Homo sapiens: one gene and its partners. The protein of the gene in region 3 interacts with the protein of the main gene of each other region in a biochemical or structural test. Each region holds a gene or a part of one and is shown on either strand. Other genes may lie near its edges.

Region 1 (7,776 bases), on a different chromosome or scaffold from region 3:
TTTTTTTTTTTTTAATTTAAGAATCCAGGCTAGTTGTTTTATGCCACCTTAGTTTGGATTTGTTTGATTGTTTCCTCATGATTAAATTCAGGTTAACCGTGTTTGTCAAGCATAGTACATGGATTATTGCATTAGAATATGCATTCGAATGCATATTAGTATATTGCATTAGAAGGCACATGGTGTGAATTTGTGCTTATCATTGGTGGTAGTAAGTTTGATCACTTGGTTAAGGCAGTGCCTTCCAGATTTCCCAGTTGTAAAGGTACTTTGTTCTTTTTGTAATTAATAAGCAATCTGTGGAATGATATTTTGACACTGTGACAATCCTTTTTCCCGACAGTCTTTCACATAGTTGTTTTAGTATTCACTGATTCTTACCTGAATCAGTAATAGTATACTATAGTGATTGTAAAAATGGTGATTTTCTATTTCTGTAATCCCTTATGTATTTATTATTTGGCTTTCTTCTCTAAAGAAGATGTTTCTCTTCCTCCTGCCTCCACACTTACTTTCAGATCAGTGTGGACTTGTTCTGTTTTTAATTCATATATTAACTCATAATTTTATCCTTTATAGTGGTCTGGCCGGGCGCAGTGGCTCACGCTTGTAATCCCAGCACTTTGGGAGGCCAAGGCAGGTAGATTATGAGGTCAGGAGTTCAAGACCAGCCTGGCCAATATGGTGAAACCCCATCTGTACTAAAAATACAAAAATTAGCCCAGCGTGGTGGTACACACCTGTAGTGCCGAGAGGCAGAGGTTGCAGTGAGCTGAGATAGTGCCACTGCACTCCAGCCTGGGCAACAGAGCCAAGACTCTGTCTCAAAAAAAAAAAAAAAAAAGAAGTCTCCATGTTGGCTGGTGACATCCTTTTCAAGATGGTTCCTGTTTCTTCCTGACAGGTTCTTTTATTTGTTAGAACAGCAAGGTGTTCCAAGTTTACCCTGTTATTTTTCCTACCTTGGATTTGGCCATTTTTCCAAGGAGCTCAGGCTTTCCTTTAATGGAGAATGTTAAAGTCTGAGCACTAGACCATTACTATATATGTATGTCTTAACTTGCATGTAGAAGCCAGTGGGGGTGGAAGACATCAAGATACTACTAAAATCTCTGTAGTGCCCTGCACAATTTTAGACTCAGAGTATTCCTGCTGTGTGGTGTCATCAGGTTGTTCATACATAAGGACAACACATGGTGGCACTGGAATCAAGATTAGTTTTGTAAAATACAGAGCATTAAGCAAGTTTCCTATTTAAAAAAAAATGTTGGCATTTACGTTTTTGAGGTTTAAGTCTTTCTTGTACATTCATCTCTTCTATAGTTAAGGAATAATTTGTTTTTCCTTGCTTTGAAGCTGTGAGAGTGGGAATTTTTACCCTGGACACCAATTTTGATATTAGGGAAGAAACTAATTTACCTGAAGCTAATCAACAGCTTGAGGCTTGAGCCTACTGCTTTCTTTCACTATTTGCATATGTAGGTTTCACTTTTTCTTTTACCATTGAGTATTTTAATGTACATAATAATATTGATGAAGCCAGCCGCCCACAATTTAATGTTTCATGAATGCTTTCATTGACTATAGCATTAGACTTTGAAATTTTAGAATATTAACAGCTACATATTTATTCATTCAAGCTCTGTAACTTTTTATACTGAAAGAAAATAATACATAACATTTAATAGGGTGGAATTCACAGCTTGTCTTGCCGTGTTCTTCTTTTGTGCCGTTTTTTCCCTCCTTAATGAATTCCTAGATATCTGCATGGTATTTGAAGTTTTGGGGCATCATCTGCTCAAGTGGATCATCAAATCCAATTATCAGGGGCTTCCACTGCCTTGTGTCAAAAAAATTATTCAGCAAGTATGTATCTTGAATCAGCAAGTATCTTAGTCTTGACTATGTAGTGATTTTTTAATATTCTTGAAGTGTCAGGACTTTATTTTTTCCAATAGAATTTTTGTTTTAAGGCCGGGTGTGGTGGCTCATTCCTGTAATCCCAGCACTTTGGGAGGCCGAGGCGGGCAGATCACGAGGTCAGGAGATCAAGACCATCCTGGCTAACATGGTGAAACCTCCTCTCTACTCAAAATACAAAAAGTTAGCCGGGTGTCTTGGCAGGCACCTGTAGTCCCAAGCTACTCGGGAGGCTGAGGCAGGAGAATGGCGTGAACCCAGGAGGCGGAGCTTGCGGTGAGCCGAGATCACACCACTGCACTCCAGCCTGGGCGACAGAGCGAGACTCCGTCTCAAAAAAAAAAAAGAATTTTTGTTTTAAAATTCTTTGTTTTAAAAAGTAAGTTATTGGCTGGGCGCGGTGGCTCACGCCTGTAATCCCAGCACTTTGGGAGGCCGAGGCGGGCAGATCACCTGAGGTCAGGAGCTCGAGACCAGCCTGGCCAACAGTGCGAAACCCCGTCTCTACTAAAAATACAAAAATTAGCCGGGTGTGGTGGTAAGCGCCTATAATCCCAGCTACTCGGCAGGCTGAGGCAGGAGAATCGCTTGAACCCGGGAGGCGGAGGTTGCAGTGAGCTGAGATCGCGCCACCGCGCTCCAGCCTGGGCGACAGAGCAAGACTCCATCTCAAAAAAAAAAAAAAAGTTAATTGCTAAAATTAAATATTTCATTCAACCTTTAGAATTTATTGTGCTTATTCTCTTTTTAAATGTTTTAGCATAACCATTTTCCCCCAGGTTTGCCTCCTATAATAATTAGAAAGGGAAGCTGAGGTTCCTGACTTGGGAACATTGGAGCCCTTATCCAGAAGTTCTGGTTGCAAATAGTAATTTTACATGAATAGATAATTGCTATGTCAGATTATTGCCATCTCTTTATACAGCATGATTCATAGGCATTTTCTAATTTTCTAAAGAGCCTTCAATATACAGTATAGATTTTACCATCAGGAAAATATTAATACTTCAAGGTGCAAAAATTTGTTTGGATTATATGTCCTGGAAAGAGCTCCAAACTGGGCAGCAAGAGACCTCAATTCTTCCTCAGTGAGGAAATTTGAATTAAAGATATCTAAATGTCTGTCAGCACCTACATTACAACACTTAGAGGGTGTGTGTGTGTTGAAGTTTATTCTCAGTCTTTGCATTGTACATAGTTGAAGAATATCTCCAAATAGAATCAGCTTTGTAAAACATTGAAGAATTTTTTATTGTAAATAATTTCTTGCCTTTTTCATAGTTTAATCTTTCTGAGAAAGTTTATTTGTGCTTTTTTAAAAGGTGCTTTTATTCTCTATAGAAAACGCTATCATATCTTTTTTTTTTTTTTAATGTCATGTTATAATCTCTTACTTCTCCAGAAAGCCTGTATTTTGTGTTTGCAAGTCTGCCACTCTATTTCCATTCAGGTGTTACAGGGTCTTGATTATTTACATACCAAGTGCCGTATCATCCACACTGACATTAAACCAGAGAACATCTTATTGTCAGTGAATGAGCAGTACATTCGGAGGCTGGCTGCAGAAGCAACAGAATGGCAGCGATCTGGAGCTCCTCCGCCTTCCGGATCTGCAGGTGTATTTTCTTTTAGGGACTTCGCTATCATTAGAAGTTAAAAAGAAATTTCTATTTTTATTCTGTTACCAGGGAATTAAACACCACTCAATCCATTTCAACAATAACATATTTAAGAAACATTATCAGCTTCCAAGAGACATTCTCACTGTTACTTCCATAGGGGAAGGAGAAAACTAGATATTGTGTCTTTGTGTTGTATGTTATAAAAGCTGGTGTGTATTGTTTAAAAATATTTTTTCTTATGAGTTGATGATTTTTGAAGTGTTTACCTCTAACTGTGATCACACATGCTCATTTATAGGACTGGTAGTCTGTAGAGGGACAAGATAACATTGCTATTAATAGTTTAGGTTTAAACACTGGAGTAGACAGACTTGGTTTGAATTTGGGCTTCATCCTAGACTGAGAAACCTTAGCTGAGTTATTTTACTTTATTTTCCCTCAACTGCGAATTATTGGGATTAAATGGTAAAGCAGTTAGTAGTGTGCCACACAATATTATATACCAAATAAATTGCGGGACCAGGCACAGTGGCTCATGCCTGTAACGCAACACTTTGGGAGGTTGAGGTGGGTGGATGATTTGGGCCCAGAAGTTTGAGACCAGCCTAGGCAACACAGTAAGACCCTGTCTCTACAAAAATTAAAAAAATTAGCCAGGCATAGTGATGCGTGCCTGTAGTCCATTTACTCAGGAGGCTGGGGCAGGATGATTGCTTGAGCCTAGGAAGTCAAGGCTGCCACGAGTTGTGATAGTACCACTGCACTCGAGCATAGGCAACAAAGTGAGACCCTGTCTAAGACATAAAATTAAATAAATAAATAAAGGCTGCTTTATGATTTTTTTTCTTTTGAGATACAGATTTTAGTTTTAGTAGTGTGTCATTTTTTAGGAACTTGCTTGATCCTCAAGTTGAGTTATTAGTTATACACTTCTTTAAAAAGGAAGACTAAAGAAGGGGGAAATGGGGAGTTGGTTGTTAAATGGATGTAGTTTCTGTTTTACAAGATGAAAACATTCTACAGATCCTGTTATACAACAGTGTGAATAGTGTTAAAACCACTGAATGTACACTTATCTAGAGTATAAATTTTTATTATGTGTTTTTTGTTAACCACAGTTATTATACTAATATTTTAAAAAGAGGAAGACTGAAGATCCTACCTTCCAGCTAAGCTACACTGTTATCCATGACATGCTGTAGAGCAAATTACTATAGCTCTTGATGTCACCTAGACTCCCCTTTTAAAACTGACAGATTCTGGGTAGCATTTGAGGTGAAGAGGTTGTTGCTTGTCCCATTCTATTTTAAGCAGTGCATGGGAATGGAAAATAGGTGATTTTTAGCAACTTTAGTTTACCTGGGGAGGAAGAATTTTATTTATCCCTTTTTTTTAAGTTTGGCAATTTCTATTCATTATTTTCTTTAAAAATGGTAATAATATAGCTTCTACTTAAGTCATTTAAAAACAATAGTTTTCTCTGCAATGTAGACTACATAAGAAAGACTTTTCATTCTGGTAGAGTGTTTTATCTGAGCCTTAGTTTATATTGCCTGATGAATGCCAGAATTCTTACTTGGTTTTCTTTTCTTTTCAGTCAGTACTGCTCCCCAGCCTAAACCAGTAAGTATAAGGTGTTTTTATATTTAATTTTGATCTATGGACTATGGGCATGGGTTCTTCTGTTGTGGATGGTAACAGTTTGTTTCAAGTTTGAGAACCAAAAGGAAAAAAAATTCCTGCGCTTCTATAATTTTCTCCAGTAAATTCCCATGCACCTTCATCACATTTGTACTGGTGAGGCCTCTAAAAAATTCGAGTTTGTCTGAATGTAAACCAACCCCACGGACTGCTCAGAAGACCACACTTTGTTATTTATTCTGTTTTTATTTGGGTTTATAAGAGTATCCCGCATCTTTTAATTTAATGAAAGACTTAAGTGCTATGTTAGGGAAAGATTTGTGAAATTTAATTAGGAAGTAATTAAAGTTAACAACTATCTCCAACTGGGGGTAATTAATTAGCCACCTGAAGGCTTTATCTGTTTGTAATCTCCGCCCAGGCTGACAAAATGTCAAAGAATAAGAAGAAGAAATTGAAGAAGAAGCAGAAGCGCCAGGCAGAATTACTAGAGAAGCGAATGCAGGAAATTGAGGAAATGGAGAAAGAGTCGGGCCCTGGGCAAAAAAGACCAAACAAGCAAGAAGAATCAGAGAGTCCTGTTGAAAGACCCTTGAAAGAGAACCCACCTAATAAAATGACCCAAGAAAAACTTGGTATAAATAGAACATCACGAAAATTACTGTACAACACACTTTAACGTTAATTTATCATTGCTATATAATACAGTGGTTTCATACATACAACACATCTCTGGGGGTATCTTTATAAGAATATGGATCTTGTCATAAATGTTAGGCAGGTAATATTTAAATGTAATTTGTAACTTTTCTCAGGAAATGGAACATAGATTTCATTTAACAATTGGGTAAAAGTAAGATCTTGGCCCTTCCGGAAATAGGTTTTAGATGTTTAGTCATGTTTTTATGTCACTCAGTATAAGTTCTAGAAAATGTTTTAATCTTGTGAGAAATGTTTCTGTTCTTTCACTCACACACATATGCATATATCTTTTTTTGTTCGTTTGTTCCTTAGAAGAGTCAAGTACCATTGGCCAGGATCAAACGCTTATGGAACGTGATACAGAGGGTGGTGCAGCAGAAATTAATTGCAATGGAGTGATTGAAGTCATTAATTATACTCAGAACAGTAATAATGAAACATTGAGACATAAAGAGGATCTACATAATGCTAATGACTGTGATGTCCAAAATTTGAATCAGGAATCTAGTTTCCTAAGCTCCCAAAATGGAGACAGCAGCACATCTCAAGAAACAGACTCTTGTACACCTATAACATCTGAGGTGTCAGACACCATGGTGTGCCAGTCTTCCTCAACTGTAGGTCAGTCATTCAGTGAACAACACATTAGCCAACTTCAAGAAAGCATTCGGGCAGAGATACCCTGTGAAGATGAACAAGAGCAAGAACATAACGGACCACTGGACAACAAAGGTACCTATGCAGCTATACTTCCTCAACACTCCTTCCCTGCACAACACATTCACAGATTTCTAGACTAAAAGTATGATTGTTTTTGTAACTATAGCTTTACAACAGGTGTGTCTAAGTTACGTTTAAATTGTAATCTGTAGCTAACTTTATCCATCATGTACTGAGTACACAGCACTTCATTTGTTGCTGTGAGGGCAGAGGTTTTTAATTCTGGAAACTCAAGGCGTTGCTGTGCTCTTTTTGTCTCAGAAAATGTAAGTTGTCACTTGGGTATTGCTGACTGTATTACTCTTACCTTGGAGAGCTTTATTACTCATTGAGTATTTCTCTGTTCATTGAACAGTCTTATTGATGATGCCTGTTGTCTGTAGGAAAATCCACGGCTGGAAATTTTCTTGTTAATCCCCTTGAGCCAAAAAATGCAGAAAAGCTCAAGGTGAAGATTGCTGACCTTGGAAATGCTTGTTGGGTGGTAAGTTAAACTTGCCTTAATGGTGTTTTGAAGTGACTGGGAGGATGAATGAGAATTTGGACTTAGTTATGCAAAACATCCATAATTCTGTACCCAGATTGATACAACACTTCAGTGAATATTTTTTTACATTTAAAAAAACCTTTTACTATGGAAAAGTTTAAATATACTTACGAAAGTAGAATGGTAATCGTGATCATGAAAAGTCCTTCTGTTACCCCACCCCACTCCAGATACCCATCACCCAGATTCAGTAATGTCAACTCCTGGCCAATCTTGTTTTTAATATATATATCATTATTAACTTTCAGACACTCAGTGCCTATGTTCATACTCCCCTACTCCCATTTTCAAAATTGATGACTAACTTATAAATTGTAACCTCCTTTTAATTCACTTAACATATTTTGGACACTTTGCTTTGTCAGCCAGAAATTTAAATACAATTCAGTTCATTACATTGTTTCCCTAGTACACTTTAATCTACATATTTTTGACAGCTCTTTGTGATGAGACTCTGCACGCAAATCTTTGTATAGTTTTTCTTAGGACATGTCCTAGACATAGAATTGCTAAGTCAGAAGTTCTGTGATTTTTAAAAGGGCTTTATGATGTATAGTGTCATTTAACTTATTTTTAGTTATTCGTAATGACATGTAATTAGAAATAATTATATGTTTTTTGATG
Region 2 (7,776 bases), on a different chromosome or scaffold from region 3:
GCTTGCATTGAGCCGAGGTCACGCCACTGCACTCCAGCCTGGGCAACAGAGCAAGACTCCATCTCAAAAAAAAAAAAAAAATTAAGTTCTAATCAGCAGATGTGATCAAATGATACTAAGGATGTCACTAACTCTTAAAACGTACCTGGTTTTCTGTATCATATGTTTTGGTAGAGGTCCAAGAATCCTTTCCATCATTGCTAAATGCTCCTTACTATCGTGTGTCTAGAAATAAAATAAAAACAGACTTGGGGAAGATGACCACCAAAACAGACACAGTTAAAGCTGACAGCAAAAAAACTAACATTAAGGCTTGCAGAACAAACTCGCCAATGATTCCCTACATGGACACGGATAATTGCTTATATACTGAAAGATGTTTTAAATAAAACAATTATGAAAGAAATATGAATTAGTTTATTTATGCTTATCTACAATTAATAGTCTATAATGGGGGAAGCAAAAGTATTTATTCATATAAACAGGCACCTTTCTTGTGCAAAGCAAGGTTGAAATAGATCATTGTCACTTACTGGAAATACGGTAAACCCAAGATAGTATTCAATAAGAATGCATCCTATGCTCCAGACATCACATGGTTGGGACCACCCTAGGGCTGCAAAGCAAAGCAAAATTTAAGGAAAAAAAATACTCAATGTTTGTTAAAGAAATTAAAAAGTTAGTTAACACTAATACTTTAAAAAAAAAAACACATGTAATGTAGGCTGGGCACAGTGGCTCACACCTGTAATCCCAGCACTTTGGGAGGCCAAGATGGGAGAACTGCTTGAGCTCAGGAGTTCAAGACCAGCCTGGGCAACACAGCGAGATCCCACCTCTATTAAGATATATATATATCTGAATTGGCCGGGCACAGTGGCTCACGCTACAGGCATAATCCCAGCCCTTTGGGAGGCTGAGGCAGGTGGAACACGAGGGCAGGAGATCAAGACCATCCTGACTACACGGTGAAACTCCGTCTCTACTAAAAATACAAAAACAAAATTAGCCAGGCATGGTGGCAGGCACCTGTAGTCCCAGCTACTCAGGAGGCTGAGGTGGGACAATGGAGTGAACCCCATAGGCGGAGCTTGCGGTGAGCCGAGATCGCGCCACTGCACTCTAGCCTGGGTGACAGAGCAAGACTCCGCCCCCCCCCCAAAAAATTATATATATACACATATATATGCAATGTGATGTTTGAGCTGGAAGATCCTAAAGCAATCACTTAATCCAAGGTTAAATACAATATATATGGCCGGGCGCAGTGGCTTATGCCTGTAATCCCAGCACTTTGCAAAGCCAAGGCAGGCAGATTGCTCCAGGTCAGCAGTTTGAGACCAGCCTGCCAACATGGTAAAAACCCCATCTCTACCAAAAATAAGAAAATTAACCGGGTGTGGTGGTGGGTGCCTATAATCCCAGCTACTCAGGAGGCTGAGGCAGGAGAATTGCTTGAACCCAGGAGGCAGAAGTTGCAGTGAGCCAAGATTGCACCACTGCACTCCAGCCTGGGCGACAGAGTAAGTCTCCGTCTAAAAAATAAATAAATGATAAAAATAAATAAATTATATAGTGTTATATATAGTCTGGAATAAAATAGGCATTAAACAATTTTCTGAGATGGAGTCTCGCTCTGTCGCCCAGGCCGGAGTGCAGTGGCGCAATCTTGGCTCACTGCAACCTCCGCCTCCCGGTGTTCAAGCAATTCTGCCTCAGCCTCCTGAGTAGCTGGAACTACTGACGTGTACCACCACACCCAGCTAATTTTTTGTATTTTTAGTAGAGATGGGGTTTCACCATATTAGCCAGGATGGTCTCGATTTCCTGACCATGTGGTCTGCCCGCCTTGGCCTCCCAAAGTGCTGGGATTACAGATGTGAGCCACCGCGCCCCACCCTTGGCCTCCCAAAGTGCTGAGATTACAGATGTGAGCCACCGCGCCCCACCTGGCATTAAACAATTACATTTAAAAACCCTACCACATATTACAAATGTGAAAACAATTCCAGAAAGGTTAAGCCACTTGCTCAAATTCCCAGAGCTAATTATCTGGTACAATTGAGAGCTTAAAATCCATAATGCACTTCATGATACTTATCCCTTAAAGAGAATATGATAAAGCCCCACAAGTAAGACCTAAAACTGCTAAAAAAATTTTAAGTCTCAATAAGGAAATACAAAGGTTCTCAAAGGACAATTAATACTCACCTAAAATAACTTCAGGTGCTCTATAATGTCTTGTAGATACCAATGTACTGTGATGTTCGTCATCATATGTTGCACTACCAAAGTCTACAACTTTAATATCTGGATTTATTAAGGTGCGTTCATCACGTTTCTGAAAATCATAAATGATGGTTAAGAAGGCATAAGCTATTAAGGCATAAGATACTTTATGAATATTTTGGAAGACTTACTATTTTGGGATTATACGCCTCTGTGTAGTCAGACTGCACAAATAAGATGTTTTCAGGCTTTAAGTCTGTGTGAGTCAACTTATTACTGTGCAAAACTGAGAATAAAGAGAAAGTTGCTGTAATCAGAAAACACCAAACCAAACCAAATCACAAAACCCCACAACAGGCCGGGTGCAGTGGCTCACGCCTGTAATCACCTGAGGTCAGGAGTTCGAGACCAGCCTGACCAATATGGTGAAACCCTGTCTCTACCAAAATTACAAAAATTGGCCGGGTGTGGTGGCGTGTGCCTGTAGTCCTAGCTACTCGGGAGGCTGAGGCAGGAGAATCACTTGAACTGGGGAGGCAGAGTTTGCAGTGAGTGAAGACTGCGCCACTGCACTTCAGCCTGAACAACAAAGCGAGACTCCATTTCAAAAAACAAAAAAACCCAACAAAAAACCTCTGATTCCTTTCCCAAAGAATGGTCAACATTCCAGTCTGCTAGAAAATCACCAGTAACTAAAACTTACTACCTCTTATGAAGCTTTCTTTTATGAGATATATCACGCCTTAATTTTTACCCAGCATTCGAAGTTACTATTTTTGCGCATCAGAAAAGTCTAAATCATAGTCTGCAACAAAGTACGTTGTTATATGGTGGATATCCTACTTGCTGAATGAAATGTACACTGCTGGATCAACAGCCTGTAATCAAATCTCTTCATACCTATTCTTCCTCCCCCTTTATTTTTAATCAAATAAAAATTGTACACACTTAGGATGCACATTTTGATATGTGGAATGGATAAAACCAGCAAATTAACGAAGATATACCAAGAACTTACAATTCACAGACTTGCATATCTGATATGCCATCTTTCTGATATGATCCAGTCGAAATGGTAGAAAACCATTTTCTTTAATGAAGTCGTAAGTACTAAGTCCCAATAGTTCAAAAACAATGCAAATGTGACCATGATGCTCAAACCATTCCAACATCTGGACACAGCGGCTACAAACACATGAAAAATAGCTAAGTATAGTTGCTCCTAATTTAAATATACCTGATACCACTTCCCAAGTTCTAATCTGATACTTACAAAGTACTGTTGGGGTCTGTTGTATTCAGATGTTCCAGAACTTGTATTTCTGAGCGAGCAGCTTCACAGTATCTATCCACATTTTTAACTATTTTTACTGCTACATGTCTACCTCCCCTGTTAGAAAGATGCATGCAAATTTAAGAATGACAGACATGATGCTCAATTCCAGGTATTACTGTCTTCAAACTGTACTACTACTCTGACCCACTGTATTTTTTTAATTTATGGTTTAGTGTTCAGTTCTGATTCTATTACATGCTGAATGACACAAATTTCTTTCATCAAACCACCACTCACATGAGTTATTTTTTGGTATTTCAGCTAAACAACTTCTTCCTATATGGTACCTGTCACTGTCAAACATTATCTCAAATGTTCTTTTAGTCCAGGTTGCCAAAAGAGTTAGGATACAGTGGGGAAAGAGTAAAGAGCTCTAGGACCGGGAGCAGTGGCTCTCACGCCTATAATCCCAGCACTTTGGGAGGCCGAGGGTAGTAAATCACTTGAGGTCAGAAGTTCGAGACCAGCCTGACCAACATGGTGAAACCCTATTTCTACCAAAAATATGAAAATTAGCCAGGCACGGTGGTGTGTGCCTGTAATCCCAGCTTCCTGGGAGGCTGAGGCAGGAGAATTACTTGAACTCGGAAGGTGGAGGTTGCAGTGAGCCAAGATTGCACCACTGCACTCCAGCCTGGGCGACAGACCAAGACTCCATCTCAGGGAAAAGAAAAATAAACAAAAAAAGAGCTCTAGCTCTCATGTCCTTACCAATCAATAGTAGGAAGCCCCCTCAAAAATGCTTTGCCATTCAGGAAGAGGAAGAACAATAACAACAACAACAACAACAACAACAAACAGGGAACTAAAAAAAAAGAGTAACGGAAAAAATTCTATACTATCTTAAGAAATTTCATGGCTGGAGCCAAGCGCTCATGCCTGTAATCCCAGCACTTTGGGAGGCTGAGGTGGGCAGGTCACCTGAGGTCAGGAGTTCGAGACCAGCCTGGCCAACATAGTCTCTACTAATACAAACAATACAATACTAATACAAACAATAGCTGGGCATGGTGGCGCGTGTCTGTAGTTCCAGCTACTCAGGAGGCTGAGGCAGAACAATCACCTGAACCCGGGAGGCAGAGGGTGCAGTGAGCTGAGATTGCGCCACTGCACTCCACCCTGGGTGACAGAGCGAGACTCTGTCTCGAGAAAAAAAAAAATTTCAATCAGTAGTTTGATAAACATACATAATTAAACTTGGGACACCAAGTTATCTCCAGCTATGTTATCAGAATGAATTACAGCACTTCCTAAAAATATAGATTCCTAGGTAACTACCCTGAAAAGGTCTGGGGTAGGCAAACCTCTCGAGGAGGATCTTAACATAAAACCAAGGCTGAGAACCACTAATATGGTGGGGGAAAAAAATATGGCCTAACAACAGTGTCCAGTTGAACAACAAAACAATACTTTCAAAACAATATAAAGTGTGTTCTCAGCCTAAAATTAGAAATTATACATACTATTAGTAGCTGTTTAAAAAATATGAAGGGGCAAGTACCTCTTAACTGGAAGTGTCTTACATCCAAGTAAAAAAGGGTATAAAGATATGTATCTAACTCATGGTCAGACCACTTTCTAAAGCTAAATCAATTACCTGTATTGCCAACTTCCCTAAAAGTAATCCCAACATGGGAAACTTACGCTTTATGATCGATGCACTCCACAACTTTTCCAAAAGCTCCTTCACCTAAAGTATCAACAATTTCATCTAAAAGAGAGAAATAAATCTCAGTCATATCAAGAAGTGGAAACAATGTACTTATCACAATAAATGCTATCAATGTAGATTATTCTAGTTGATGCTACAAATTTCCTTATCACTAGATATTTTATTGGTCAACACCATCAAAAAACATAATTATTAGGTCTAATTTCATTAATTTGATTACTGTTCTGGAAGTTCTATATAACAAACATTACATTTCTAAAGAAAGCAAAAATACAATCCCCCCCACCAAAAGAAATGGAAAAATAAAACAAAAACAAAAAAGAGAAAGAAAAAAAGATTTCCAAATCCCTGAAAGCTTAATCTATATATAGATTATGTTATCTGAAAAGTTAATAAGTGTTGAAAAATATTCTATACATCTTGCACTTAGTACGTCTCCACTCTGACAGATCAGGTGACCCTCCTCATCATCCTCTACACTCCTGGTTCTTTTCCTTCGGTGACTCTTCTGGAAACGTCAAGTGGGCGGCACCAAGATCATCCAGCCAATCAATATACCCGAGTGAATTCAGGGCAGAATACGAAATTCATTCAGCGGGGAGATATTCAGGCATTCAGATACACGCCAGGCCACAAACGGTTGGCAGGAGCAATTTCAAATTCAGTCCCCAGAAATTCACAGGGCACATAGTTTATGTTAACAGGAGAAAAACATGGCAAGGAACAGATTTTCAGATAAGATACTCAAAGTGGCAAGGCAACAAAACATAATACAATTGTTTTTCTTAAAAAAAAAAAATGCTTAGTTGTAGCATTCACTGAAACATAATTTTTTAGTTTCTAGTGTTCTAATTTAATGTTGCAAAATCGTATGATGTAATATTTACTTGTCAAAGTAGGCGGTGGCCAAATTAAGATTTCCTACCTAATCTAAGAAAACAAATATTATAACAGTAAATAAAATTAAAGTGCTAATTTTGGGGAAAAAAAGATTTGGCATACAAGAATAACACTACGGCATTTTTAATGTCATCTGAGCTGATCTCCATACTAATATATAACCCATAACAGTTCAAATCTGTTCTGGTTTGCTTAGTGAAAGAAGGGTTAGAAAACATGACTTGTTAGAACAAAGAAGCATACCTAATCCTAAATTATACAAAAATAAAATGCCCTGTTCTACTTTTGTGATTTCAATAGATCAAAACTAATCAGGTTTCTTGAAGTACCACAAAAAACCCTTTTAGAATATTTTGTAATAATTTTCAACTAATCTAAATTAAATCAATTAACTCCCATCATTTCACTGGAATGTCAATTAGGAGCCAACCAATAATTAAATTATAGAACTAAATGTGTACTTTATTTCCGGAATTTCCTATCCAATGCACAAACACAGAAAAAATCCTGCAGGTTAAAACTGAGATGATTTCATCTTAAAACTTTCTCAAATAATCAAACACAAAAATTCAAGTTTCCCTGTTCCACATGGGATATAAAATTTCCAAAATGTTTTAAAAACGTTCATACCCCATGTGAACGACGATGTGAAGTACTGTGGTGAATCCTGTGTTTGCTTTTATAACTACTTCTTCCACTTCTACCAGAAGACTTGCTACTATGGTTCTGATACCGGCTTTCATGGTCTCTTTGGCGATGTCCAGGTTCACATCCTTGAGTGTAGTCATTTCTGTACTCATCAATGTAGCGTCGACTATGATAATCTTTCTCATTTATAGACCTGCTTTCCAAATAATGGCTAGAGAAATAAAAATTATTTTCAATGTTTTATGCTAAGACCAAATATCCTCACATTCTCTTCAAGACAGCACCTAGACTCCCCCACAAGCAGCTTAATTTTACAAACATTACAAACCATCAAAATCTCTCATTGGAAACAAACGAATGGTAGTAATCAGGTACTTATTTTAAGTGATACTAGTTTTGTCTAGTAATGTATTGTTATATTCAGACATTTTAAGTATCCTCCTTACCTATCACACATTTTAGAGTGATTGTATTTGCAGCGCTTGTTCTCCTGGGCACTGCTATGTGATCTCTTCCTTCTTTTATGACTGCTGCTGCTCCTCCATTTTCCATAATCCCAATCCTTGTCATCCCAATCAGGACAGTAAGTTCTCTTTGAGTGTCTCATCTACATAAAAGGCAAGTTTTTCCTAGTTAAATTGTACCCCACACTGAGCTGTTTAAAATTCGTAATTACAAAGGTCCCCTCGTGACCTCGTTTTAAGACCAAAATTCAAGAATCATTATCACCCAATCTGAAATCACTGATAAATCCAATTACTGTGTTGTCCCATATTCTGCAGTTTGAACTTCATTCACAGGCACTCTGCATTAGCCATATCATGCCCAGATTTATTGGAAGAATGCAAAAAAAAAAAAAAGTGAAAAAAGTAGAGGGAGGAATCACAATTTACTAATTTTGGTACATTTTACCCCTGCCCTCCCAGTAGTACAAATATAGCACTATAGAAGTCCACGCTGTCAGGCCTCTGAGCCCAAGCTAAGCCATCAT
Region 3 (8,589 bases):
GTCTTCCAAGTACTGGAAGCAGTAGCAGATGAAGTTGGAGAAGGGGGTCAGAGCACAGACCACCTTGTGGTGTTTGAACCTTAGAGTGGAGATGATGGGGAGCCATCGCCTCTAAGGTTGGAGGCGTTTTGTTTGTTGGTTTGTTTGTTTGTTTTTTGAGACCCAGGCTGGAATGCATGGTGCCATCTTGGCTCACTGCAGCCTCTGCCTCCTGGGCCTCCAGCAATCCTCCCACCTCAGCCTCCTGAGTAGCTGGGAATAGAGGCGCGTGCCACCATGCCCAGCTACTTTTTGTATTTGCAGTAGAGACAGGGTTTCGCCACATCACCAAGGCTGGTCTCAAGCTCTGGAGCTCAAGCAATCTACCAGCCTCGACCTCCCAAAGTGCTGAGGTGTGAGCCACTGCACCTGGCCAGTTGGAGCCTTTCGAGCAGGGATGAGACACATCTAGATTTACATTTAGAAAGGTGACTGATGGCTGGGCGTGGTGGCTCATGGCTGTAATACCTGCACTTTGGGAGGCTGAGGCGGGCGGATTGCCTGAGCTCAGGAGTTTGAGACCAGCCTGGGCAACATGGTGAAACCCTGTCTCCACTAAAGTACAAAAAAAAAAAAAACAAAAAAAACAGCTGGGCATGGCGGCGTGCATCTGTAGTCCCAGCTACTCAGGAGGCTGAGGCAGGACAATTGTTTGAACCTGGAAGGTAGAGGTTACAGTGAGCCGAGATCGTGCCACTGCACTCCAGCCTATGCAACAGAGTGAGACTCCGTCTCAAAAAAAAAGAAAGGTGACTGAGGCAGCAAGATAGATGGAGGATGGGGTCAAGGGGCCCGCACTGGAGGCTGGGAGGCTGGGAAGCAGTGAGAAGACCTGTAGTAACTGCAGCTTCCTTTCTATATTAGCTTGCTAGGGCTATCATAACAAAAATACCACAGACTAGATGCTTAAACAAATGAGATTTTTATTTTCTGGAGGCTATGAGTTTACGATCTGGGTGTTGGCAGGTTTGGTTTCTCTGGAGGCCTCTGTCTTTGGCTTGTAAATGGCCACCTTCTTACCATGTCCTCACGTGGCTTTTTCTCTGTGCAAGTGCATCCTTGGTGCCTCTTTGTGTATCCAAATTTCCTCGTATAAGGACGCCAGTATGATAGGATTATGGCCCAACCTAACAGCATTGTTTTAACTTCATCATCATCTTCAAATGCACGATCTCCCAATACAGTCACATTCTGTGGTTCCAGGAATTAGGCCTCAACATATGAGTTTGGAGGTGACAGGAACACAGTTCAGCCCATAACATTTTCTTCTTTTTTGAGATGGAGTCTCACTCTGTCACCCAGGACGGAGTGCAATGGCATGGTCTTAGCTCACTGCACTCTCTGCCTCCTGGGTTCAAGCAATTCTCCTGCCTCAGCCTCCCAAGTAGCTGGGAGAACAGGCACCTGCCACCACACCCGGCTAATTTTTTGTATTTTTAGTAGAGATGGGTTTCACTATGTTGGCCAGGCTGGTCTTGAACTCCTGATCCACCTGCCTTGGCCTCCCAAAGTGGTGGGATTACAGGCATGAGCCACTGTGCCCGAAGCCCGTAACATTTTCTATTAGTAACAGGTATGGAATGGGGTCTGGACACCACTAGCCGATAAGATTAAGTCATTTCCCATTCCATCATTGGGAAATAGCCAACTCCTGTAATCCATCAAAATTATCTGTAAAATGGGCTTTGTGACCTGTTAAGAAAGACTACTTTTACCTCTGGATCCCAAGACATAGCAGAGAATCTGATACAGATCACACTGGGGCTCACTGCATTAATGAAGGATGAATGAAGCAATTCATTATCTGTAGTGGTAATGCACACTGAACTGTGGCTTGTCCTCAGACTTTAGAAAAAAGAGAGTTGTAGAGTAAGACTTGCCTGGTGTATGACAGGGCCAGGCGCTCTCACCTCTGTGATTCAAAGGCATTTAATACTTTCTTTTTGAGACAGGGTGTCACTCCATTGCCCAGGCTGGAGTGCAGTGGTGCAACCATGTCTCACTGCAGCCTCGACTTCCTGGGCTCAAGTGATCCTCTTACCTCAGCCTCGTGAGTAGCTGGGACTACAGGGATGTACCACCACATCCAGCTAATTTTTTGTATTTTTTGCAGAGGCAGGATTTTGCTATGTTGCCCAGCTGGTCTCAAACTCCTGGGCTCAAGCAATCCGCCTGCCTCGGCCTCCCAAAGAGCTGGGATTACAGGTGTGAGCCACCATGGCTGGGCCAAGTATTTTCATTTCAAGACCAAATTGTAGTTGTGACATATTTGTCTCCCATAGGTCAGGAGCTCCTGGAGAACCAGGTTTTATACGTCTGTCTTTGTATTCCCAGCCAGTAACCCAGGTCCTGGCAAAGAGCACATGCACCATTATAGTTTGTGGAATGAATGAGATAATTAGATTAAGAACCTGTGATGGGCAGGAACTGTAATTTTGCAATCTGGTTGTGTGTTTGCGGTTCATGATGTGTGCAGTCCTGTTTGTTTGTGGTTCAGTTTTTTTTTTTTTAGACGGAGTCTCAGTCTGTCATCCAGGCTGGAGTACAGTGGTGCAATCTCGACGCACTGCAAGCTCCGCCTCCCGGGTTCATGCCATTCTCCTGCCTCAGCTTCTGGAGTAGCTGGAACTACAGGCGCCCGCCACCATGCCCGGCTAATTTTTTGTATTTTTAGTAGAGACGGGGTTTCACCGTGTTAGCCAGGATGGTCTTGATCTCCTGACCTCATGATCTGTCTGCCTCGGCCTCCCAAAGTGCTGGGATTGCAGGTGTGAGCCACTGTGGCCGGCCTTTTTTTTTTTGGTGGTAGTAACAGTGGAGAGCCCTCAATAAATGCTTCATTGGGAAAACTGTAACCAACAGCTGAGAACTGCCTCATCTCACTGCTAAATCTGTAAATTGATTTTCTTCTTTCTTGTTTCAGTGGAGAAGATCCTTTCTCCTATCAAAGGCCAGAGGTTTCAAATATGCCCTGGAGCCTAACCCATTACTTTTTTTTTTTTTTTAAGACACAGTCTCACTCACTCTGTTGCCCAGGCTGGAGTGCAGTGGCGCGACCTTGGCTCACTACAGCCTAAGTCTCTTGACAGTCCACTGTTTAAAGCGATGCTCCTGCCTCAGCTTCCCGAGTAGCTGAGATCACAGGCGCCACCACCACGCCTGGCTATCCTTTGTGTTTTTAGTAGAGACAGGGTTTCCCCATGTTGGCCAGGCTGGTCTCGAACCCATGACCTCAAATGACCCACCTCTGCCTCCCAAAGTGCTAGGATTCCAGGCGTGAGTCACCACGCCAGGACCCAACCCGTTACCTTTTTAAGATTTTAAGTCATTAACTATCCCCTTCTTTTATTTTCCACCTCTCTACTGGAATATCCCCAACATTAAACATTCTCTCATTTCCTACGTTTGGGGTTTTTTTTTTTTTGGTCTTTTCTTTTTTTTTCCTTTTTGTGGAGAATGGCGTCTTGTTATGTTGCCCAGGCAGGTCTTAAACTCCTGGCCTCAAGCTATCTCCCTGCCTCTGCCTCCCTAAAGTAGTGGGATTATGGCGTGAGCCACCATGTCTAGCCTCTAATTTCCTATCTTCAAAAAGGCTCCAGCCCCACTTGGTGGCTCACGCCTGTAATCCCAGCACTTTGGGAACTTTGGGAGGTCGAGGCAGGTGGATCACCTGAGGTCAGGAGTTTGAGATCAGCCTGGCCAACATGGCGAAACTCCGTCTCTACTAAAAGTACAAAAATTAGCTGGGCGTGGTGGCGGGTGCTTGTAATCCCAGCTACTCAGGAGGCTGCGGCAGGATAAACTTGAACCCGGGAGGCAGAGGTTGCAGTGAGCCAAGATGGTACCACTGCACTCCAGCCTGAGCGATAGCTCAAAAAAAAAAAAAAAAAAAAAAAAAGGCTTCATGTCCCATACCTCCTTTGAGTTCTCACCCTATTTTGCTGCTTTCCTTCTTAAAAAGAGGTGTCCACGACCGGGCGCGGTGGTTCACGCCTGTAATCCCAACACTTTGGGAGGCTGAGGTGGGTGGATTATTTGAGCTCAGGAGTTCAAGACCAGCCTGGGCAACTTGGCGAAACCCCGTCTCTACCAAAAATACAAAAACTTAGCCGGGCGTGGTGGCATGCGCCTGTAGTCCCAGCTACTGGGGAGGTTGAGGCGAGGGGGTCGCCTGAGCCCGGGAGGTTGAAGCTGCAGTGAGCTGAGATCGTGCCATTGCACTCCAGCCTGGGTGACAGGGCCAGACCCAGTCCCCCCAAAAATAAAAGTGTTGGGCTTGTTATCAATGTGTAGTGCCTTACATTGTATAAACTCATTTAATCTTCACAATAGCATCGTGGCTGGGGGCCGGGGGAGGACTATTGTAAACCCCATTTTACAGAAAAGGAAACAAAGGCACAGAGCGGCAGAGCTGGGATTACGAACCCAGGCAATCTGGCTTTAGAGACCATACCCTTAACTGTGCTAAAGCATTATCCCAACATACGTTGATATATTTGTGACTTTATTTCTTCAGCGATTATCTCCCCTCGCCAATGCACAGGTCTGCGGGAGCATGGACTGTCTGAAAGGTTCTGAGTTTAGCTTTAAGCACAGTGCCTGGCACATACCATTTGTTGAATAAATGGATCTACCTATCTATATATATGTGTGTGTGTGTGTGTGTATGTGTGTGTGTGTGTGTGTGTGTATATATATATATATATATATATATATTTTTTTTTTTTTTTTTTTTTTTTTTGAGATGGAGTTTTGCTCTTGTTGTCCAGACTGGAGTGCAATGGCGCGATCTCGGCTCACCGCGACCTCCGCCTCCCGGGTTCAAGCGATTCTCCAGCCTCAGCCCCCTGAGTAGTTGGGATTACAGGCATGCGCCACCACGCCAACCTAATTTTGTATTTTTAGTGGAGACGGGGTTTCTCCATGTTGGTCAGGCTGATCTCGAACTCCCGACCTCAGGTGATCCGCCCGCTTCGGCCTCCCAAAGTGCTGTGATTACAGGCGTGAGCCACCTCACCTGGCCTACTGGATCAATATCTTTTTAAAAAATTCCACACTGGGAGACATTTGGTGTAGGACTGAATCCCCGTATTTTAGAAGCCGCCTTGTCTCTTCTTGCCTCGATTTCCCATCCTGTTAATCAGGAGACTCAGGGCGGGAGGACAAAGCCAGGTGCAAGAGGCGTGAGCACAGCGACTAGGAAAATGGAGTCGGAAGCCGTAATCTTCAGTTTCCTCCGCTGCATGAGGCACCATGTGCACCACGTGGACTAAAGGAGACACTTTCTCCATTTTGAAGCGGTGTCCAGGCTTCAAGACCTAGGCTCCAATTTCTCACCGTGAAGAAGCTCGGGAAAACCGGGCGCTTGGGGAGGCGCGCGGGCAGAGGCTACCCGTCCCCGCGGCCTCTAGACAGGGGCGGAGTCCCTACCCGGCCTCCGCGGGCCCCGCCCCCGGACGGCGGAAGCCGAGCTCGCCCTCTCCGCCCGGGCCTGGGCGTGTCCCACGGGCGCACGGCATGCTGGGAAGGCGTCCGCGCGGCGGCCATTTTGTCTTGTCGGCTCCTGTGTGTAGGAGGGATTTCGGCCTGAGAGCGGGCCGAGGAGATTGGCGACGGTGTCGCCCGTGTTTTCGTTGGCGGGTGCCTGGGCTGGTGGGAACAGCCGCCCGAAGGAAGCACCATGATTTCGGCCGCGCAGTTGTTGGATGAGTTAATGGGCCGGGACCGAAACCTAGCCCCGGACGAGAAGCGCAGCAACGTGCGGTGGGACCACGAGAGCGTAAGTCCCGCGGGCCTTGGCCTGAGCCCGGGCTCCGTGGGGGAGGGGAGCGGGCGCGGGCTGTGGCCCTCCTGGCCGCGGCGCGATGTGGCCAGGGCCGCACCCGGGGTCGAGCGTCTGACCCGGTGCCCATGGAGCCAGGAGGGAGGATGCTGTCCGGACCCGGGGATGGGGGTGATTTGGTTTTGTTGTTCTAGTATCAAGGGGGTCCGGGAGAGCCCTTGGCATAATTGAAAAGCACCTTGATGAGGCGGGGAAACGCGGGAAAGAAGGATAGCAGCGTCTTATTAAATCTAGCGGCTCCGAGGTTTCACCTCATTATGAAATAGGGAGAAGGGCACATTTTTCTATAGTTTGGGTTGAACGTCGTATTTAGACTAAAATTTCTGACCAGGATTCATGGTAAAAATCGTGGCGGTATTTTATTTAAGTAATTACAGCATGACGCTTATACGGGGAAATAGAAATGTAAAAGAAGTCGTTTACTTGTTAGGGTTTACCGTGATGATTTACAAGTATTGTTCGTTAACAGTATTCTAAGAAGTCCCTTATAGAGGCAGCTGTCAAGGTTTTTTCTTCCACATAAAACTCATTTGATGCTCTTAGCCCGGGGAGTAAAGGTAAATATTATAACCCCAGTTTCACTGGTGAGACTTAAAAAGGCTCACCCAAAGTCTTGGCAACTGAGGAAACTAATCTTTGTAGTTCTGTTAGCTTTCCACAATCCTATGAAACTGGTTCTCTGCACCTACTGTAGCATTTCAAGTGTTTTGATCTAGTTTTGAACATGCAGTGTAATGTTTACTTTAGGTCTTATCTGGAGAATAGATACAGAATTTAATTTTACTTTGAGGTTATAATCTAACATGCTAATTTTAAAACAATTGCTAATCAAAATAGGAAGGAATAGTTCAGGTAATGCATGCTTCTTTAGAAAACTGTTTTCTTACTCTTTTTAAACGTAGGCTTTGGTTAAGGTAAAATTTCTTTTTTGCAGTGTAGGAAAGCAAGTTGGTGCTAGATGACTCCTTTTAGGACTTTAAGAAAGAGTAAGTTTGGCTCAAGTTGTGTTGGGGTGCTAACTGATTCCAAAGTAGTATGAAACATTCTTAGAGTAGAATTTATTGTTTTTAAGAGGTGGGTTTTTTGTTTTTAACATTTAGGCTCCCCATCCCCCCGACCATTTGTCACAATAGGAGACTAAGGAACTGCTTACCTTGACCATCTTTCTTTTGTAGGCATCTTTGTTATAGCGAAGTAACTTTTTTTTTTTTTAACTACCTGACTCTGTAACCTTTCAGTCTAAACTTTGCAAATGTGTTAGGAATAACGCTCAAAATCCTAAGTAAGGTAAAAAACCAAAACATTATGGCGATTTGGCTTATGTTCAATAGGTTATTTGTATATTTTGAATTCAAGAGAAAAATGCTTTCCATTGCACTCCTTATCAGTTGGAACAGCCTTGTATCTCTGCACCCTTGACTTTGAACACGTTTTAGAGAAACTGTTTTCTTTCCCGGGGTAATTTGTTGCCACATTGCATTGTATGTGATGGGTTTATGACTCTTCAATGATGAGGCCCTCAGAATAGCAATTTAGGTTTTATGTCATCTCAGCCGTAATCTGCTTTGCTTTCAGTTTTAGTACTTTTCACTAATTTTAACTTTCAGTGTTTATTACTAAAGTATTTAATGCCTTAATGACAGATTGCACTTCACTCTAGATTGAAGGATTTCAAGTCAGTTACTGGCATTTCAGATTGATATCTGCAGGGAAAATGTTGGTAGTGTTGAGCAAAAACAAAGCACATGGTCTCATCTAAATAGGTGGAATTATTGTATAATGAAGCTGGGGAAGCTGTTGATATCGTTTCCGGGTCATCTGCATATTCTTGTACTGTTGGCTGTTAGTGCTAAACCTGCAGGGATGGGCAAACCCATTATATGCTGAAAAGGAGTCACCTTTTCTATAGCCTAATATTTTAACATATTTTTGCATTCCTGTTCTATCTGGAAATTTTTCTTGGCCATACTTGCATTAAATGGAAGAAGCCATTTCAGCTGGATGGGGCCCTTGTTTTTTTTTTTGGAATAGAGATAAATACCAAAATAAGGAAAGGAAGCAACCATTAATTAAAAGACAGTTGCCGTGGCATCTGTAAGTATTTAACAGTCAAAATGCTAACTTTACCTAGTATTAAAGGTAGTCCCTAGATAGCTGTATTTGACCTGTGGAATTTGTTTTAAATGCATATTTCTGTACTTCAACCCCTTCAACTCCCCTTCCCAGAGAGTCAGATTCTGTCTGTCTTGGGGAAGGGTCCCAGTATCTGCATTTTTTATGGCTCCTCTTATGCATTCTTTTTTTTTTTTTTTTTTTTTTTTGAGACGGCGTCTTGCTCTGTCTCCCAGGCTGGAGTGCAATGGCGTGATTTTGGCTCATTGCACCCTCCGCCTCCCGGGTTCAAGCGATTCTCCTGCTTCAGCCTCCCCAGTAGCTGGAACTACAGGCGCCCTCCACCACGCCCAGCTAATTTTTATATTTTTAATAGAGATGGGGTTTCACCATGTTGGCCAGGATGGTCTCGATCTATTGACCTCGTGATCTGCCCGCCTCGGCCTCCCAAAGTGCTGGGATTACAGGCGCGAGCCACCGCGCCCGGCCGGCTCCTCTTATGCATTCTAAAGTTTGTGACCTACTGTTTCCTGACCCATCCTGATTAGTCCTGGGCTTTTAATTGTGCATATCTGCACAATTAAATCTTAATTGGT
Region 4 (7,776 bases), on a different chromosome or scaffold from region 3:
CTATATGAAACTTCAGCCGGGCGCGGTGGCTCACGCCTGTAATCCCAGCACTTTGGGAAGCTGAGGCGGGTGGATCACGAGGTCAGGAATTTGAGACCAGCCTGACCAACATGGTGAAACCCTGTCTCTACTAAAAATACAAAAATTAGCCGGGCATGGTGGCACGCGCCTATAATCCCAGCTACTCAGGAGGCTGGGGCGGGAGAATCGCTTGAACCCGGGAGGCAGAGGTTGCAGTGAGCCGAGATCGCGCCACTGCACTACAGCCTGGGTGACAGAGCAAGACTCAATCTCATAAAAAAAAAAAGAAACTTCAAGTAAGAGAAAAATTGAACTGCAACAGCAACAATAAGTCTGGATAAGGTACCTCTCACTACTGCCCTTTCCCAGAAATTAACCTACATTCTATGTAAGCACCTTCAAACACTCCCTGGAAAGGGGAACAGGAGCTGACCACGTCCAGCCAAGTAAAGAAAGCAAATCCTTAGGAGGATTCATCATAGCCAGTGCGTAACAAAGCCAGCTTACTCGGCGTGCAATTCCAGACTGCTGGAACCAAAGGGGCTGCAGAATGTCGGGCTGTTTGCAGGGCTGGCTCATCAATTTTACTCGCTGTGTGTTAAACAGTCTTGTCAGTAGAGGGAGCAGAGGGAGGTTTCAGAGCTTTTCCCCCATAAGCCAGTATGGAAACCAGCTGTGTTACCCAGTTTTCACTTACTAGAGTCACTTGGCATTCACTCCCAAAATAAGGCTTTGAATAAGTCAAGCCTTCTTAGGTAGACAAGAACACAAGAGCCAATCTATAATCTGTCATCACATTTAAATCCATGCCAATTCCTTGAAAATTACAATCCTGGGCCAGTTACCAATAGTAGGGTCCTATAATCAGGAACAACTATCAAAAGACAATATGACACTTCTTTCTCAATAGAGTCAAAGAGGAGGCATAATTTTCTTGAATAGAAACAAAACAAAACTAAACTAAACTAAATATAATGACATTAGATGGAAGAAGATACGAATTTTAAACTAAACTACACATTCTAGAAAGGTGTAAGTTGCTAAAACTGGAAGGTTTTTGCAAATGATGCTGCTGACTAAATATATTAAAAATGAAAACTGGTCAGAAATAAGATTTGGTATGCAGAGAGCAAGAAATAGCCTAATGGCATAGAAAATTTATTTAAATCACATTACTTCTTCAGGAGTATAAAAGTAATAAAACTGATCAGTACACACACACAGGGCTTGGCCACTTCCAGCCAATTCCTTCACAGCATTTGTTAAAGGCACGTCCCTGGAGTCAGCGATGGCAGACAGTTGATGGGAAGAAACACTTACCTTTTGGCAAATCCCCAGTACTGGAGGCTGAAACCGTTCTGCTTCTGTCATGGGATGGACTGCTCTCCTCTTGCTCAGTAAGTGGTGATCCCTCAGAAAGCACAGAGCCGCAGGCCACAGGTTCTAAGGATCCAGAGAACAACGAGGTGGAAAACTCTGGGAACTGTGACTCGGGAATTTTATGTCGTCCATTTGGCAATTCACCATTGAATTGTTCATAGGAGCTGCTATATGTGTAATCACTTTCTGCATTTGGCTCATCAAGATTATATTCCTCAGGATTTGGGCAGTCTTCTTCATCATCATCTTCATCGTCCAGTTGCTGCTCCAGTGAGAATGGGCCATTCTCAATATGGCCATTGGTTTTAGGTGATTCTATCCACGTAGGGTCTATGTTCGCAAGTTCCTGATCTACATCATCTTCATCTTTTTCAATGTTTTCTTTCTCAGCATCTTCTTTCTCTTCCTGGTCCTCAGCTTCACCTTAAGAATTTGATGGGTCAAGAATTAGAACTTGTTACTCTCCTTAATACAGCCTCATTAAGTACTTATCTCCATCAATAAAATACATTTTGAATATGCTTATGTACCACCTGGTAAACACCTCTTGGCTTTTGGGGTAAAACCTTCAGGTTTTCTAAATCTCATTTTTCATTCATTTAGTAATTGGCCTGCTCTTATAAGAAAAAGTTAGCTTTAAGGGAAAATAACTCTTTCTAAATAAAGTTGCACTTCCATTTCTACCCTCTATAATCTTCAGAAACAGACTTGTGGTGCATTACAGTTAGGTAAAAAGTTAATGACAAAATAAAGCACCATCATTAGCATGATAGAAACATGGAATTTCTCAATTATTTTACATTTTTAAAAACTATTTTGAAATGTTAACATATTTCTGGCATACAGTTCACAAATGAAGTACGAGGCTATTTCCCATATTTCCCAATAGGGAGTTGGAGAGAATCATCCTTGTCATCTGCAGCAGCAGCACAAATCAGCCCCCATGTTGACCTGGCAGAACCCTACTAATGGAGCTCTGAGAACCCCATGCAGCCCAGGTTCCAGGCCCCACTGACCATTGTCCTTTGCAGTCTCTGCCTCAGCCGCCTCCTCTAATCCTGTTGTTTTTAGTTTCACCTCTGGGCAGTATTCGCCATCCTGGTCATTGGAAGGTGCAGCTGAGGTGATGTTTTCTTCTATTATTTTCCTTTCAGCTTCTCGCTCCAATTCTTCTATCTCCTGCAGGCGCTTCTCCAATAACTCAGCCTGCCTCTTCTGTTTCTTTTTCAGTTTTTTCTTTTTGTTTTTAGATATTTTTCCTATCTATGTTAAGGAAAGACCACAGGTCAGTATTCTTCTTTTTAAAGCACCACGATAGTATAACGACTAGCAGCATGGCAAATAGCAATAAACTCTGCTTTCTCATGCCATATTCTATTAAAATCCCAAACCCAGACAGATCCACTTTGTGGTAAGGCTTACGATAAAATCAAAGGGAAAGCAGTGCTGACTGATATCACGTACTAGGTCTACTACCAGGTCCTGCCCTCAGAGGGATATAGCTTAAATCCAGTAAGTCTTCACCATTCAAACTCTAAGAGAACTGAAGTTCGAAATTCTCTTGGCCTTAAAGGAGAAGCTCCTCTTGCAAGTTTTATTTGCTGCTGTCTATATACAAAGTAACAACATCCCAGCTCCTCAATGCCAAAAATGAAACAGGTGCCCGAGCAGGTGTATGTCACTGTGTGTTTGGGTCTCACATATGAAGCTCTTAGCAGCCAAGACAACATGAACTGTAAGAGATAAGCCTATGCTGCAAAGGGAAAAAAGAAAAAGCTACAGCTTTTGTCTGCCTCCCGTCATGGTTACCTGACTTGCAAAGCACTGGCAATGACAGCCTCCAACCTTTCAATCAATCAGTAAATTCAAGCAGCTCAAGCCAGGGAAGAACTATGGGAAACAACTTGAGCTTCTCAGCAGGCCAGGAAGCTTAATTATTAAAGCTCCCTCTTGTTCCAGAACTTACATTCCAAATCAAGAGCTGTCTCAGTAAAAATAGTGTTTTGTTGTTGTTGTTGTTGTTTTCTTTGAGACAGAGTCTCTGTTGCCCAGGCTGGAGTGCAGTGGCGTGATCTCAGCTGACTGCAACCTCCACTTCTTGAGTTCAAGTGATTCTCATGCCTCAGCCTCCCATGTAGCTAGGACTACAGGTGCACACCATCACACCCGGCTAATTTTTTTTTTTTTTTTTGAGATGGAGTCTCACTCTGTCGCCCAGGCTGGAGTGCAGTGGCGTGATCTCAGCTCACTGCAACCGTTACCTCCTGGGCTCAAGTGATTCTACTGCCTTAGCCTCCTGAGTAGCCGGGATTACAGACGTCCACCAGCACACTCAGCTAGTTTTTGCATTTTTGGTAGAGACAGGATTTCACCATGTTGGCCAGGCTGGTCTTGAATTCCTGACTTCAAGTGATCTAGTGGCCTCAGCCTCCCAAAGTGCAGGGATTACAGGCGTGAGTCACCACACCCAGTATCTAATAAGGACATAGTGTTTTGACAGGACCACAAAATAGATCAGTCTCTTTCTTATTTAACATCCGCATGGAAAAAATTAGAACAACAGCTTCAGAAAAACAGGTAACTTAGCAGCCAATCAGAAATAATGTAAAGTGGTTTTGAAATAAAAATACTTCAACTCCATCACCTCACATTTCACTAAACTTGGCCACCATAGTCCAGAAAATGCATAAAGAAGACAATTTTTGAAAGGCTCTAACTATCCCAACTCTGCACAGATCATTAAAACTTAACAAGACAGGCTGGGCGTGGTGGTTCAAACCTGTAATCCCAGAAATTTGGGAGGCCGAGGCAGGCAGATAACTTGAGGTTAAGAGTTCGAGACCAGTCTGGCCAACATGGTGAAACCCCTCTCTACTAAAAATACAAAAATTAGTTGGGTGCGGTGGCAGGTGCCTGTAATCCCAGCTACTCGGGAGGCTGAGGCACAAGAATCGTTTGAACCAGGGAGGGGGAGGTTGCAGTGAGCCGAGATCGCACCACTTGCACTCCAGCCTGAGCAACAGAGTGAAACTCAGTTTTCAAAAAAAAAAAAAAAAAAAATTAACAAGACATTAAGTCTTACCTATTTGAGGATACACAGCTTTTATAAATGTGTCTACCCTTTAAATACACAACTTTTTTATAATTTGAACAACTCAATAATAAACGGTCTCTTTTAACATGGTGCATATAAAGTAATATGCGTAAGTACTTACAGGTTTCTGCTGTGGAGCCGTACTCACTAAAATAAAATCAAACAAAATCTGTATTTAGCAGAAAACAGACACATGCCTTCATGTAGGTCATTCGAATTGCAAAGTGAAATAATTATTGTCTTTTAATGGCTATCCAACTTCAAAAACTATTAATCAGAGCTTCTTAATCACAAGGATCTAGAGTAAGTTTATGCCACTGAAACAAATGAGTGACTCCTGAAGTCACAGCAGAAGTTACTCATACTGAGCCATTTCTCTTATTTATCTAAAATGAAATACTAATACATCTCAAACACAGTCAAGCTCAAGCACCAACAGATCACTTAAGAAAATGGAAAAGAATACATATCACAGTCATTAAACCAAATTTGTTTAAAATATAATGAAATGAACAATGTAGATGTACATCGATATTTGGAATCTATTTTGCAAGCTTTCTATAATTTAAATCAAATACTGCAGTTGGTATGCAGCAAATAGTCTAGGAATCACATGATTAAACCCCTACACCAGGGTCAAAAGCTTAACAGGCTGGGTCCATGATCTAAACAACACCCTGATGGCAGTAAAGGAGATGTGAAGAGAGCCCCAGGCAGTCCCAGGAGCCTCAGCCCTTTAGTATCCATGCTTGCCTGACAACACACAAAGGCACAGATCATGGTGTCGAAGAGTGAGAAGCACAGTCCACACTTCACTGCACCACCTCCCCGACCCCGCCCCAGAAATAAAGATATCCCAATACTCAGGTCACTTGATCTTCTTCCCCCACCATCAGGCCTTTTCTAACTAACTCCAAATCTGTTGATACAACTCAGGTTGACATAGCTATGCTAAATGGACAACAAGAATTTATGTACACAAAATTGAAGCCAGAAAAATATTCTGATGACTAAAGGTCAGCTACAGGAAAGCTGTTACTATGTTCTCCTCTGCAGAGAAGCTGGCAACAGAAAAAACTGTTCAAATATAGATGAAGCAGCAACTACAAATTTAAATGGCCTTTTAAAGGGGGACAAAAGTAAATACTTCCAATATTAAAATATAATGTAGCTGGGGCATTTTCCATTTCAAGGGTGCAGTTATTTCCAGCAATTAAACTTTTCCAAAATCTTCCTTATGTGTAACGTTTGATTCAGATACCTTCAACAACTGCAACTTTGCAAGCTCCCAATGCCCCCACACTGAAATGAAGCTGGCTCAGCTCCCTCACCTGCAGACCCTGAAGGAGGAGGAGCACCTGCTTTCTGCCACTCAGTGGCCTCAGCTGCCATTCTTCTCACATATGCATCATCCACACACATCAAGATATTTTCCGGCTTTATGTCAGTATGAATGATCTTGCACTTACTGTGTAAGTAATCTAACCCTTGAAGGACCTGGATATAGTAAAATCAAGAGAGAAGATAAGCTATTAATATCTCATTATATAACTTTTATTTATTTGAAAAACATGTAATACAATGCCAGGGTACAAAGTTTGATAAACACAAAAGGATATTTAGTAAAAATCTCCCTCCCATGCCTACCCACATTGGAATCCAGCTCTCCTTTCCATAAGCAACCAGTGTGTATAATTTCAGAGATTATTTATGCTCGTGGAAGCAAATGCATCTACATACAGTTGAACCTTGAACAACACAGGTTTGAACTGCATGGGTTCCCTTATACACAGATTGTCTTCCACCTCTGCCACTCCTGAGACAGCAAGACCAACCCCTCAGCCTACTCAACGCGAAGATAATGAGGATGAAGACCTTTATGATCATCTACTTCATATGATCTATCCACTTAATGAATAGTAAGTATATTTTCTCTTCTTTATGATTGTCTTAACATTCTTTTCTCTAGCTTACTTTGTTGTAAAAATATGCTATATAACACACATACAAAATACATGTTAATTGGTCATGTGATCATTAAGGATTCTGATCAACAGTAGGCTAGTAATTCATGTATCATACAATTGACCCCTTTAGGTATACAATTCAATGGATTTTAGATGTGCGACTATCATTACTATTTATTTTTTAAATTTTTTATGTATTTATTTTTTGAGACAGAGTCTCGCTCTGTCACCCAGGCTGGAGTGCAGTGGCACAATCTTGGCTCACTGCAACCTCCGCCTCCCAGGTTCAAGCAATTCTCCTGCCTCAGCCTCCCAAGCAGCTGGGATTACAGGCGTATGCCACCACGCCTGGCTAATTTTTTTTGTATTTTTAGTAGAGACGGGGTTTTACCATATTGGCCAGTGGTCTCGAACTCCTGACCTTGTGATCCACCTGTCTCGACCTCCCAAAGTACTGGGATTACAGGCGTGAGCCACCACACACGGCAACTACCACCACTATTTAAATGACAACATTTTCATTGCTCCAAAAAGAAACAACATATTCATCAGCATTCACTTCCCATCTCTCTCCTACCCCTTCTAACCCTTAGCAACCACTAATCTACTTGCTGATTCTGGACATTTCCTATAAATGGAATCATATAAAGTATTTTTTTGTAACTGGCATAATGTTTTCAAGTTTGACTCTTGTGCAGCATGTATTAGTACTTCGCTTATTCTTATTGGCAAACAGTATTCCACTGTATGGAGATACAACATTGTGTTTATCCCTTCACCTCATGAACATTTGGGTTATTTTCACTTTAGGGGCTATAAAAATAATACTGCTATTCACACTCGTGTATACATTTTTGTGTGAACATACTTTTTTTGAGGGGAGGTATATACCTAGGAGTTACCGTACTTAGGTCATATGGTGCCTCTATATTTAGCTTTTTGATGAACTGCCAAAGTGTCTTCCACAGTGGCTGCACCATTTTACATTCCTATCACCAATGTATGAGGGTTCCAATTCTTCGCCCTGAACAACACTTACTATCGTTTTTTACTTTATCCACCCAAGTGGATATGAAGTATCTTGTTGTAGTTTTGATCTACATTTCCCTGATGGCTAATGATGTCCATACATTTTTAACACTGCAAGAGAAGGGGGGCTTGATTTAAATAGAAAATAGCCTTGGTATCTAGACAACCCTACAGCATTATACTAAAAGAAAGTGATGAACCAAGATATTCATATTTCTCATATTAAAACAATCAAAAACTTACAGTGTCAGTGACCTAAATACAAGGTCAGTGTTTTTCTATAAT

What was found.
Region 1: of the proteins of LUC7L3 (region 3) and SRPK1, one has a biochemical effect on the other in vitro, tested with the Homo sapiens proteins (one study listed by BioGRID).
Region 2: of the proteins of LUC7L3 (region 3) and CLK1, one has a biochemical effect on the other in vitro, tested with the Homo sapiens proteins (one study listed by BioGRID).
Region 4: of the proteins of LUC7L3 (region 3) and SRPK2, one has a biochemical effect on the other in vitro, tested with the Homo sapiens proteins (one study listed by BioGRID).

The regions. Positions count from the first base shown.
Region 1 is NC_000006.12:35,868,323-35,876,098, reverse strand, and holds part of SRPK1 (SRSF protein kinase 1), read left to right. Parts: intron 1-1,759; coding exon 1,760-1,866; intron 1,867-3,370; coding exon 3,371-3,536; intron 3,537-5,139; coding exon 5,140-5,165; intron 5,166-5,604; coding exon 5,605-5,818; intron 5,819-6,197; coding exon 6,198-6,617; intron 6,618-6,988; coding exon 6,989-7,089; intron 7,090-7,776. UniProt on the Homo sapiens protein: Serine/arginine-rich protein-specific kinase which specifically phosphorylates its substrates at serine residues located in regions rich in arginine/serine dipeptides, known as RS domains and is involved in the phosphorylation of SR splicing factors and the regulation of splicing.
Region 2 is NC_000002.12:200,854,471-200,862,246, forward strand, and holds part of CLK1 (dual specificity protein kinase CLK1), read right to left. Parts: intron 7,393-7,776; coding exon 7,232-7,392; intron 6,997-7,231; coding exon 6,768-6,996; exon of another isoform or gene 5,746-6,767; coding exon 5,655-5,745; exon of another isoform or gene 5,277-5,654; coding exon 5,210-5,276; intron 3,620-5,209; coding exon 3,503-3,619; intron 3,415-3,502; coding exon 3,248-3,414; intron 2,516-3,247; coding exon 2,421-2,515; intron 2,342-2,420; coding exon 2,212-2,341; intron 617-2,211; coding exon 534-616; intron 226-533; coding exon 146-225; intron 1-145. UniProt on the Homo sapiens protein: Dual specificity kinase acting on both serine/threonine and tyrosine-containing substrates.
Region 3 is NC_000017.11:50,714,014-50,722,602, forward strand, and holds the start of LUC7L3 (luc7-like protein 3), read left to right. Parts: upstream 1-5,589; 5' UTR 5,590-5,719; coding exon 5,720-5,818; intron 5,819-8,589. UniProt on the Homo sapiens protein: Binds cAMP regulatory element DNA sequence. May play a role in RNA splicing.
Region 4 is NC_000007.14:105,140,667-105,148,442, forward strand, and holds part of SRPK2 (SRSF protein kinase 2), read right to left. Parts: intron 5,993-7,776; coding exon 5,827-5,992; intron 4,643-5,826; coding exon 4,617-4,642; intron 2,665-4,616; coding exon 2,418-2,664; intron 1,825-2,417; coding exon 1,342-1,824; intron 1-1,341. UniProt on the Homo sapiens protein: Serine/arginine-rich protein-specific kinase which specifically phosphorylates its substrates at serine residues located in regions rich in arginine/serine dipeptides, known as RS domains and is involved in the phosphorylation of SR splicing factors and the regulation of splicing.